2 linked regions of the Homo sapiens genome follow. The protein of the gene in region 2 purifies or fractionates together with the protein of the main gene of each other region. This does not show direct contact. Each region holds a gene or a part of one and is shown on either strand. Other genes may lie near its edges.

Region 1 (3,500 bases), on a different chromosome or scaffold from region 2:
AGTGTGAGACCAGCCTGGCCAATATGGTGAAACTCTGTCTCTACTAAAAATAGAAAAATTAGCCGGCCTGGTGGCGGGCCCCTGTAGTCCCAGCTATTTGGGAGGCTGAGGCATGAGAATCACTTGAACCCAGGAGGTGGAGGTTGCAGTAAGCTGAGATTGCGCCACCGTACTCCAGCCTGGGTGACAGAGGGAGACCCTGTCTCAAAAAAAAAAAAAAAAACCACAGAAGTCAGAAGAAGAATCCATAAAGGAAAAGGTTTATAATTTTGACTCCATGAAAGTTAAACCAATGGTATGTTTAAAAAAAGAATTAGGGCCGGGCGTGGTGGCTTACGCCTGTAATCCCAGCATTTTGGGAGGCTGAGGCAGGCGGATAATGAGGTCAGGAGATCGAGACCATCCTGGCTAACACGGTGAAACTCCATTTTTACTAAAAATACAAAAAATTAGCCGGTCATGGTGGCGGGCGCCTGTAGTTCCAGCTACTCGGGAGGCTGAGGCAGGAGAATGGCGTGAATCCGGGAGGTGAAGCTTGCAGTGAGCCAAGATCGCGCCACTGCACTCCAGCTTGGGTGACAGAGCGAGACTCTGTCTCAAAAAAAAATAAAAGAAAAAAAAGGCTGGGTGCGGTGGCTCACGCCTGTATTCTGAACACTTTGGGAGGCTGAGGCGGGCAGATCACGAGGTCAGGAGATCGAGACCATCCTGGCCAACATGGCGATACCTCGTCTCTATTAAAAATACAAAAACTAGCTGGGTGTGGTGACCCGCACCTGTAATCCCAGCTACTTAGGAGGCTAAGGCAGGAGAATTGCTTGAACCCGGGAGGCGGAGGTTGCAGTGAGCCAAGATCGTGCCACTGCACTCCAGTCTGGAGACAGAGTGAGACAACATCTCAAAAAAAAAAAAAAGAAAAAAGAACTAAAGGTAATATTTACCGTATTTATGACAGGCAACTAGGTAACATGTCATCTTTCTATTTAATAGATGCATATATATGTGTATGTAGGAAAGACTAGGTGACTAAGTGAATAGTAGTATCTGCAGAATGTAATGCAGTGGTTAAAAACAATCAGTGATAAAAACCAAATTATACAATGATGTATACAAAAATTACACTATTTTAAAAAATAAATAGTGCTAAATGGATTCCTTAGGCATTTATGTAAATATACAAACACAGGTTGAAAGAATAAACATCAGATAATGATTACTTCTGGGAAGGGGCATGCTGGATGGTAAAAAGAAGCTTTGTGGGCCGGGCGTGGTAGCTCATGCCTGTAATCCCAGCACTCTGGGAGGCCGAGGCGGGTGAATCACGAGGTCAGGAGTTCGAGACCAGCCTGGCCAACATAATGAAACCCTTTCTCTACTAAAAATACAAAAATTGGCTGGGCATAGTTGCGCACGCCTGTAGTCCCAACTACTCGGCAGGCTGAGGCAGGAGAATTGCTTGAACCCAGGAGGTGATAGTTGCGGTGAGCTGAGATTGCGCCACTGCACTCCAGCCTGGACAACAGATTGAGACTCTGTCTCAAAAAAAAAAAAAAAAGAATAAGAAAAAAGAAGCTTTTTTATTTTGTAATGGTTGAAAGTTTTGCAGTAAGAATGTAAAATGTATAGTAAAAAACAGTTGATAAGAACATTTTCAAACATATAAAATTGAATAGTAAATTGAATAGAAAGATTGAATAGTATAAAGAACATGATATACCCATTACCTATTACCAGTCTTTAACAATGATCTTTTCTTCACCCCTGCATTTGAAACAATCCCAGTCATCATTTTATCTTCAAGTAATTGTATGTATTTCCAAAATGATAACTAAGGGCTCTTTAAAACCACAGTCATTATCAGTAGAAGAAAAACAGTAATTTTTTTTGAGATGGAATTTCACTCTTGTTGCCTAGTCTGCAGTGCAATGGTGTGATCTCAGCACGCTGCAACCTCCACCTCCCTGGTTCAAGTGATTCCTCCTGCCTCAGCCTCCTGAGTAGCTGGGATTACAGGCGCCCACCACCACACCTGGCTAATTTTTTGTATTTTTAGTAGAGACTGGGTTTTGCCATGTTGGCCAGGCTGGTTTCGAAATCATGACCTCAAGTGATCCGCCTGCCTTGGTCTCTCGAAGTGCTGGGGTTACAGGCGTGAGCCACTGCGCCTGGCATAGTAATTCTTTAATATCATTAAATACCTAGTGTGCACATTGCCCTTGCTGTCTTTTTTAAATAGTTTGTTTGAATCTGGATCCAAATACAATTCTTGACGTTGCTACTGATTGATATGCGTCTTAAACATTTTATAATCTATAGTTCCTTTTTTTTTCTTTGCAATTTTCTGTTGAAAAAACTCATTTGTTGGCCAGGCGCAGTGGCTCACACCTATAATCCCAGCACTTTGGGAGGACGAGGATGGTAGATCACCTGAGGTCAGGAGTTCGAGACCAGCCTGACCAACATAGTGAAACCCTGTCTCTACTAAAAATACAAAAATTAGCAAGGCATGGTGGCACGTGCCTGTAGTCCCAGCTACTTGGGAGGCTGAGAAAGAAGAATCGCTTGAACCAGGAGGCGGAGGTTGCAGTGAGCTGAGATCGTGCCACTGAACTCTAGCCTGGGCAACAGTGTGAGACTCCGTCTCAAAAAACAACAAAAAAACTCATTTGCCTTATGAGTTTCCCACAGTCTGTTTTGCTGATTTGCATCCCTGTGGTTTTTATTTTTCCTTATTTTTTTACTGTTAACACCACTCAAAGATGTGGTGGGTTTTCTTGTTTGTTCGTGTTGTGTTTTTGTTTTTGTTTTGAGAGTCTTGCTCTGTCGCCCCGGCTGCAGTGCAGTGTGGCATGATCTCAGCTCATTGCAGCCTCCACCTTCCAGGTTCAAGAGATTCTCCTGTCTTAGCCACCTGAGTGGCTGGGACTACAGGCATGCGCCACCATGTCCGGCTAATTTTTGTGTTTTTAGTAGAGATGTAGTTTTGCCATGTTGGCCAGGCTAGTCTGGAAGTCCTCACCTCACGTGATCCACCTGCCTCCGGCTCCCAAAGTGCTGGGATTACAGGTGTGAGCCACTGTACCTGGCCTCCCCGTAAGTATTTTAACATACATATCTTTTTTTTTTTGAGATGGAATTTCACTCTTGTCGCCCAGGCTGGAGTGCAGTGGCGCAGTCTCAGCTCACTGCAACCTCTGCCTCCGGGGTTCAAGCGATTCTCCTGCCTCAGCCTCCTGAGTAGCTGGGATTACAGGCGTCTGCCACCATGCCCAGCTAATTTTTGTATTTTTAGTAGAGATGGCGTTTCACCACGTTGGCCAGGCTGGTTCAAACTCCTGACCTCAGGTGATCCACCCGTCTCGGCCTCCCAAAGTGGTGGGATTACAGGCATGAGCCACTGCGCCCTGCCTATATATATCTTTAACTAGAGTGCCATATTTACAGTTTTTTAAATTGAGGTAAAATTCACATAACTAAAACTAACCATTTTAAAGTATACA
Region 2 (5,990 bases):
GGGCAACGGAGGGAGACCTTGTCTCAGAAACAAACAAACAAAACAAGAAAACAAAAAAATCCAAAGTATCCTGGAGGCCCTTCTCCATAAATCCATGCAACTGATCCCTTTTCATGGCTGCATAATACTCCTCAGTGGCACTGTACTTGGTTAATCCAACCAGTTTCCTTCTCTTGGATATTTGGAATTCAATTATTTCTTTACACTTTCCAAAATAATTCCCTGTGATGTAGATCCAATGACCCTCACAAAAACCCTGAGTGAGGTAGGTCCTATTATACCTGAAATTGACTAACATGACTAACACAGGAGACACTCATGGCTTGCTCAGTGTTACACATTGCAGAGGTGGCCTAGCCAAGATTTTTTAAATGACAGCATTGAGATATAATTTACACACCATAAAATTCATCCATCTAAAGTATACGATTCAATGGTTGTTGGTATATTCACAAACCATCATAATGAACAATCATCCACAACCTAATTTTAGAACATTTCAATCACCATGAAAGAAACTCCAAAAGAATGCATGCCAAATTTAAGATCATTAAGATGTATGCCTATGTGTTTTTTCCTAAGAGTTTTATAGTTTCTTTTGTTTTGTTTTGAAACAAAGTCTCACTCTGTTGCCCAGGCTGGAGTGCAGTGGTGTGATCACGGCTCACTGCAGCCTCGACCTCCCTGGGCTCAGGTGATCCTCCCACCTCAGTCTCCTGAGTAGCTAGCCACAGGGGCGTGCCACTACGCCTGGCTAATTTTTGTATTTTTGTAGAGACAGGGTTTCACTAAGTTGCCCAGGCTGGTCTTGAACTCCTGGACTCAAGCAGTGCACACACCTCAGCCTCCCAAAGTGCTGGGATTACAGGTATGAGCCACCAAGCCCCACCAAAAGTCCTATTTTAAAATGTGCTCTTTAATAACATATCATGTAATTAGTAAAGTCACTTCCTTTGTATCTCTTATTTTTGATGACCACTGTAAATAAGTCTTTTTCCCCATACTTTCCACATACACACACACCCCCTATTTATTTGTTAATGTTTTTTCCAACAACCCTGAGTTTTCTAATTGTTATCACTGTTCAATTTTTAATAGGATGAAAACTTAGAAATATTTCTGCCTCAGCCTCAGCTGATATCCCAAAGATAGCAAATGAAACAAAATTCTAAGAGAACTTCATTCAAGAACAGGATCTTATAGAGCTGTTGAGTGTAAAATTTTGCTATCATTAAACTCCTCCTTTAAAGACAGTGGAGAGGCTGAGAGAGGAGCATGTATTTTTAAGAGACTGTTATTTTTAGAACAGTGTTTTTCCAGGGGGAAAAACGTGAGTGATTCTCCCTTTTTTACAACACACAAGGGGTCCCTCAGACCCTGAGGCCACCAGGAACCAAAGTGGTGAGAGAATTCTTGGCAAAAATTTTACATATTTCTAAGATTTGGGAGGGCAAAGTGACTGAGGTGGCTAATTCTCACCTTAGCACTAGGTGAAGACCCCATGGGTGGAGGCTGTCTGGGTTGTCTTGGGTCCTATCAAAGAGGAATGACTGGACAAACCCACCCACCAGAGTCGGTGGGCCACTGAATGCCCAGAGGAAGCACTGGGGCAGCAGCTGGAGAAGAGGCTATGCCCATGAGAAGGGAAGTGTATCTGGAGGTTCCAAGCAGCAGGTTCTCTTGGAAGGTAAGAGATGACTTACACTAAATTATAGTGGTATCAGTCATGTTAGCCTCTTCTTGTCTCTGACTTCTGTCTTCTCATTCCTTTCCCAGCTCCCAATCCATGAGAGCTAAAGACTGCCTATAGGGAGTAAAGAGGAGACAAAATAAAGGTTGGGGAATTAGAGAAGAAACTAATCATGTATCCTTTCACATTTCAGGCTTCCAGCAGAAGAAATTCATCCAGCAAAAAAAAAAATAAATACACACACACACACACACACACACACACACACACACACTCTCAAATAGGAATTTTGAGAGTGGCAGTTATGAGATAAAGTTTTTTTCTGTGTGGTCCCAGTGGTATTCTATTCATTTAAGCATATCAGTCATCAGTCAATACCAGGTTTCCCAATAAATGATCTTTTTTGGAAGGGAAGGGACGGAGTCTCGTTCTGTCGCCCAGGCTGGAGTGCAGTGGCGCGATCTTGGCTCACTGCAACTTCCACCTCCGAGTTCAAGCGATTCCCCTGCCTCAGCTCCCGAGTAGCTGGGGCTACAGGCATGCGCCATCATGCCCAGCTAATTTTTATATTTTTTAGTAGAGACGGGGTTTCACCATGCTGGTCAAACTCCTGACCTCAGGTGATCTGTCCGCCCCAGCCTCCCAAAGTGCTGGGATTGCAGGCGTGAGCCACCGCGCATGGGCCCAATCTTTTTTTTTTTTTTGAGACGGAGTCTTGCTCTGCCACCCAGGCTGGATTGCAGTGGCACGATCTCGGCTCACTGCAAGCTCCGCCTCCCGGGTTCACGCCATTCTCCTGACTCAGCCTCCCAAGTAGCTGGGACTACAGGCGCCCGCCACCACGCCCGGTTAATTTTTTGTATTTTTAGTAGAGACGGGGTTTCACCATGTTAACCAGGATGTTCTCGATCTCCTGACGTCGTGATCGGCCCGCCTCAGCCTTCCAAAGTGCTGGGATTACAGGCGTGAGCCACCGCGCCCGGCCCGCATGGGCCCAATCTTACCCTCTGAAAATTATTTTGCCTCTTCCTCTCCATTAAAAAAAAAAAATCACTACTTATTTTACTTGTCTAATTACCAGAGTCAAATTCTACAGGCATATATAAAATGCCCAATACTCATAAATCAATCTAAACAATGCATACTTTAGTCAACACTCGGTTTCTCAAGCACTCCACCTAAGTCACACAGTGTGCCACATTCACAGTCATCATAGGTCGTGTACACCAAATACTTTTAAAATTAGGCATATTCATAGCTGTATCACCCACTACATAGTCATAATCCCATAGGCCCCCACGTCGTGCACAATTTCACAGAACTTCTACAAAAAGTAACAACCTTTCACTCACAATGCCCTCACTGTCGCCTCTCCAGAGTCGGACACAGGCTCAAACACAAATCGACTCGCATCTAATTTAAATTAAAACTTAAGACACGCAGGGACCCTATCACTTTCATAAACAACCGGTTCCACAACGTCACACAGAATAACACATTCCCCTACCACAACACACAGGACAGGTACGAAAAGCCACACACACACACACGGAGCGCCTGTTGTGTGCCAGGCCGTGCTCCAGGAGCCAGGGGACGAAAATCAGACGAAATTCCTGCCACTGGGGAGCTCACCCCCCGCCTCGGGCAACCGGTTCCCTTCTTCAGGTGCTCCCGGGCCCGCGCTCTGGTTCCTGCTTCCCTCCCAGCCTTCTCTGAGGCCCGGACTCGCACTTTCCTCCAGCCAACTCCTCGTCCCAGGTTGCTCCTCTTCCCTTCTTGCTTTCCCCAGCCCAGGCTCCCGCCTCCCTCCTCAGCCTTCCTTACGGGTCACACCGTCACCCGCCTTCTCCGCGCCCGCGGGACCCACCAGCCTCACCTTCGGTTGCCGGCCGGGCGTCTGCGCATGCGCACTCCCACGCGGACGATGCCTCCCAGGTGTCTCCGCGGCGCGTTCCTGCTGTCCACCGGCTACGCGCGCCTTCTCCACATCCGGGCGTTTCCGGCCTTGGACTACATTTCCCACAGGCGCCCGGGCGGTTTTCGAACTTTGATCTCTGGTTCCCCTTCCAAATTCTCATAGTGCGTGGCTGGGATGAGGGCGGCGCTCACGGTGAGGAAGCCCCGAGCTCCCGGGACGCAGACAGGGTGTGCAGGGCCGTAGCTCGGGCCTGTGTATGCACCTGTGCGTGTGTGTTTGATGCCAGGACAAGGCGGCGGTGTGCGCGGCGAGGAGGCTGCGACAGGTGCGTGATTGTGTTCCTGTCCCTGCTCGGATGCGGGACCTTTGGGTGGCCGTGGTCGGCTGTCGGGTGTGTGACACTGTAGGGTTTGAGACCTTCCATCATGACAGTGCTGCTGTGGCCGTGTGATGGAAGAGCCTTTTAGGTCTGTGGTGTTGTGTGTGTAACGGGTAAAGCTTCATTTCTGCAGTGCTGTGTTTAATGTTGGGACTGAGGGGTCTGTCGAAGATCTCCCCAATGTGCCTGTGAGGACTATGATCCATGCCTATGTTAAGCAGAGTCATCTTGCAATGAAGCATGGCCCGCGTTGTCTTCTCAGGGCACACCTGTCCCCAGTTCTCAGCCTGGTGTTTGACACAGGGGATCCTGGCGGAGTGCCCACCTAAGCGGCAGTTTTAGACTCGATTGTTTCTTGGGCTCTGCATCTCTGAGTTCCCAGCTTCCTTTTTTCTCCCGCTTTATAGCTGTATAGACCCCAGCTGCAGTGAAATGGCCATCAAAAAGGGAAGGGATAATCGAGTGGTGGAATAAAATCTGCAAACAGAAAAAGGACAGACCTGTTTTCGGAACGAGGCTTTTCGAGTTGTAAGTGTCCCTTAAGCAGAGTTCTGGGAAGACGTCGTGGGGAGAACCTAGGAGTAGGATTCCTTCCTCAGAGGCTCTCCCTTGGGAACTCTCAGAGGTCAGGTTCCATGTGATCCACATCATTCCCAGAGCTGTCTCCGCAGGAGACTTAACGTGAATTTTGAGAAAGTCCCCAGTCCTGGATATCAGTGACCCTGGCCTTTCCCTTGAATACTAAGAAGGGTTAGCAGTACTCCCATCTCCCTTTTACTTCCATCTGAGTATGTTTATGGTAGATGATGAGAGCTCGTGTGGTGGCAATAATTTTTTCCAATTTAGCCAATCTGGGTTCCAAGAAAGGTCTGATGTCTCATGATTCCTTACCCCTTCTCCCTTGCCTTGAGGTTCTCTAAGAGCCCTGAGGAAAGGGAACCATTGCTGAGCATATCTGAAAACCAAGGTCAAGGAAGTTTTGTTGTATTTTCTATTTTTGTTCTCTTTGATTTTGTTTTTCAGCAAGGGAGTATTTTTTCTCCTCCTGAAATGCTAGTCAGTGGTTAGGTTACTATTAGGCAGGGCCTTGTGAGGTGCTTTGACCAATAGAATGTGGTGGAAGTGATATTGTGAGACTTCTGAGACAAAGCTTCAGGAAGTCTTGCAGCTTTTTCTCTTCCCCTTTTCCTGCCCTGAGACCACCATGACTGAAGGCTAAGAGCAACTTGCTTGCGCATTAAAGATCACTTGGAGAGAGAGGTCCAGTGAGCAACAACGGCCAGAAATTTCAGGGAGACCATCTTGAACCATCCAGCCTCCACCAGGCCAACAGCTGACAGCTGTCACATGAATATGATCAGCAGAAGAACCACTCAGGCAAGCCAAGCCCAAATTGCCAAGCCCCCCAAATAATAAGCTAATTGTTTTTTGTTTTAAGCCATAAACTTTTGAGGTGGTTATATAGCAATAAATAACTGAAACAGGTGTTTAACTTTCTAGACTTTTTAAATGACCATATTGATATAATTGTATTGTTCAACCTGTTTTGTAAAGTGATTTCTCTGATACAGTATCTTGAAAATATTCCTTAACTATTTTCTACAACTTTGCATTTGTCTATCTTAGTATTATATTACATGGATATGTGGTAACTTATTTAACTACTAACTTCCCTTTGCAATTCCTTTTCCTTGCTGTCTAGCTCCCATGTCTTGACCAACTTTGCATTCCCCTCCAGGACCTTATGGGCACATGGGTTCCTATCATTTCACGGGTATGTAGACTCAGGAATGTGGCATTGACTTCTGGGTGGAGTACAGATGACTGACACCCCCACCCCGATTCGGAGGAATTATTCAGGGGTGTGATATAACACCTACATACATTTATTTAACTAGCCAATTTGGTCTCCCCTTTTTTTGTTTTGAGACCGAGTCTTGCTCTGTCGCCCAGGCTGGAGTGCAGTGGCGTGATCTCGACTTACTGCAACCTCCGCCTCCCAG

What was found. Proteins that work in one complex are often made in the same cells at the same time.
Region 1: the proteins of ZNF567 (region 2) and DDX50 purify together in Homo sapiens (co-immunoprecipitation; one large-scale study listed by IntAct). This does not show direct contact.

Annotation. Positions count from the first base shown.
Region 1 is NC_000010.11:68,914,815-68,918,314, forward strand, and holds part of DDX50 (ATP-dependent RNA helicase DDX50), read left to right. Parts: intron 1-3,500. UniProt on the Homo sapiens protein: ATP-dependent RNA helicase that may play a role in various aspects of RNA metabolism including pre-mRNA splicing or ribosomal RNA production.
Region 2 is NC_000019.10:36,685,211-36,691,200, reverse strand, and holds the start of ZNF567 (zinc finger protein 567), read right to left. Parts: upstream 3,590-5,990; 5' UTR 3,567-3,589; exon of another isoform or gene 3,323-3,566; intron 1,805-3,322; 5' UTR 1,704-1,804; exon of another isoform or gene 1,504-1,703; coding exon of another isoform or gene 1,480-1,503; intron 1-1,479.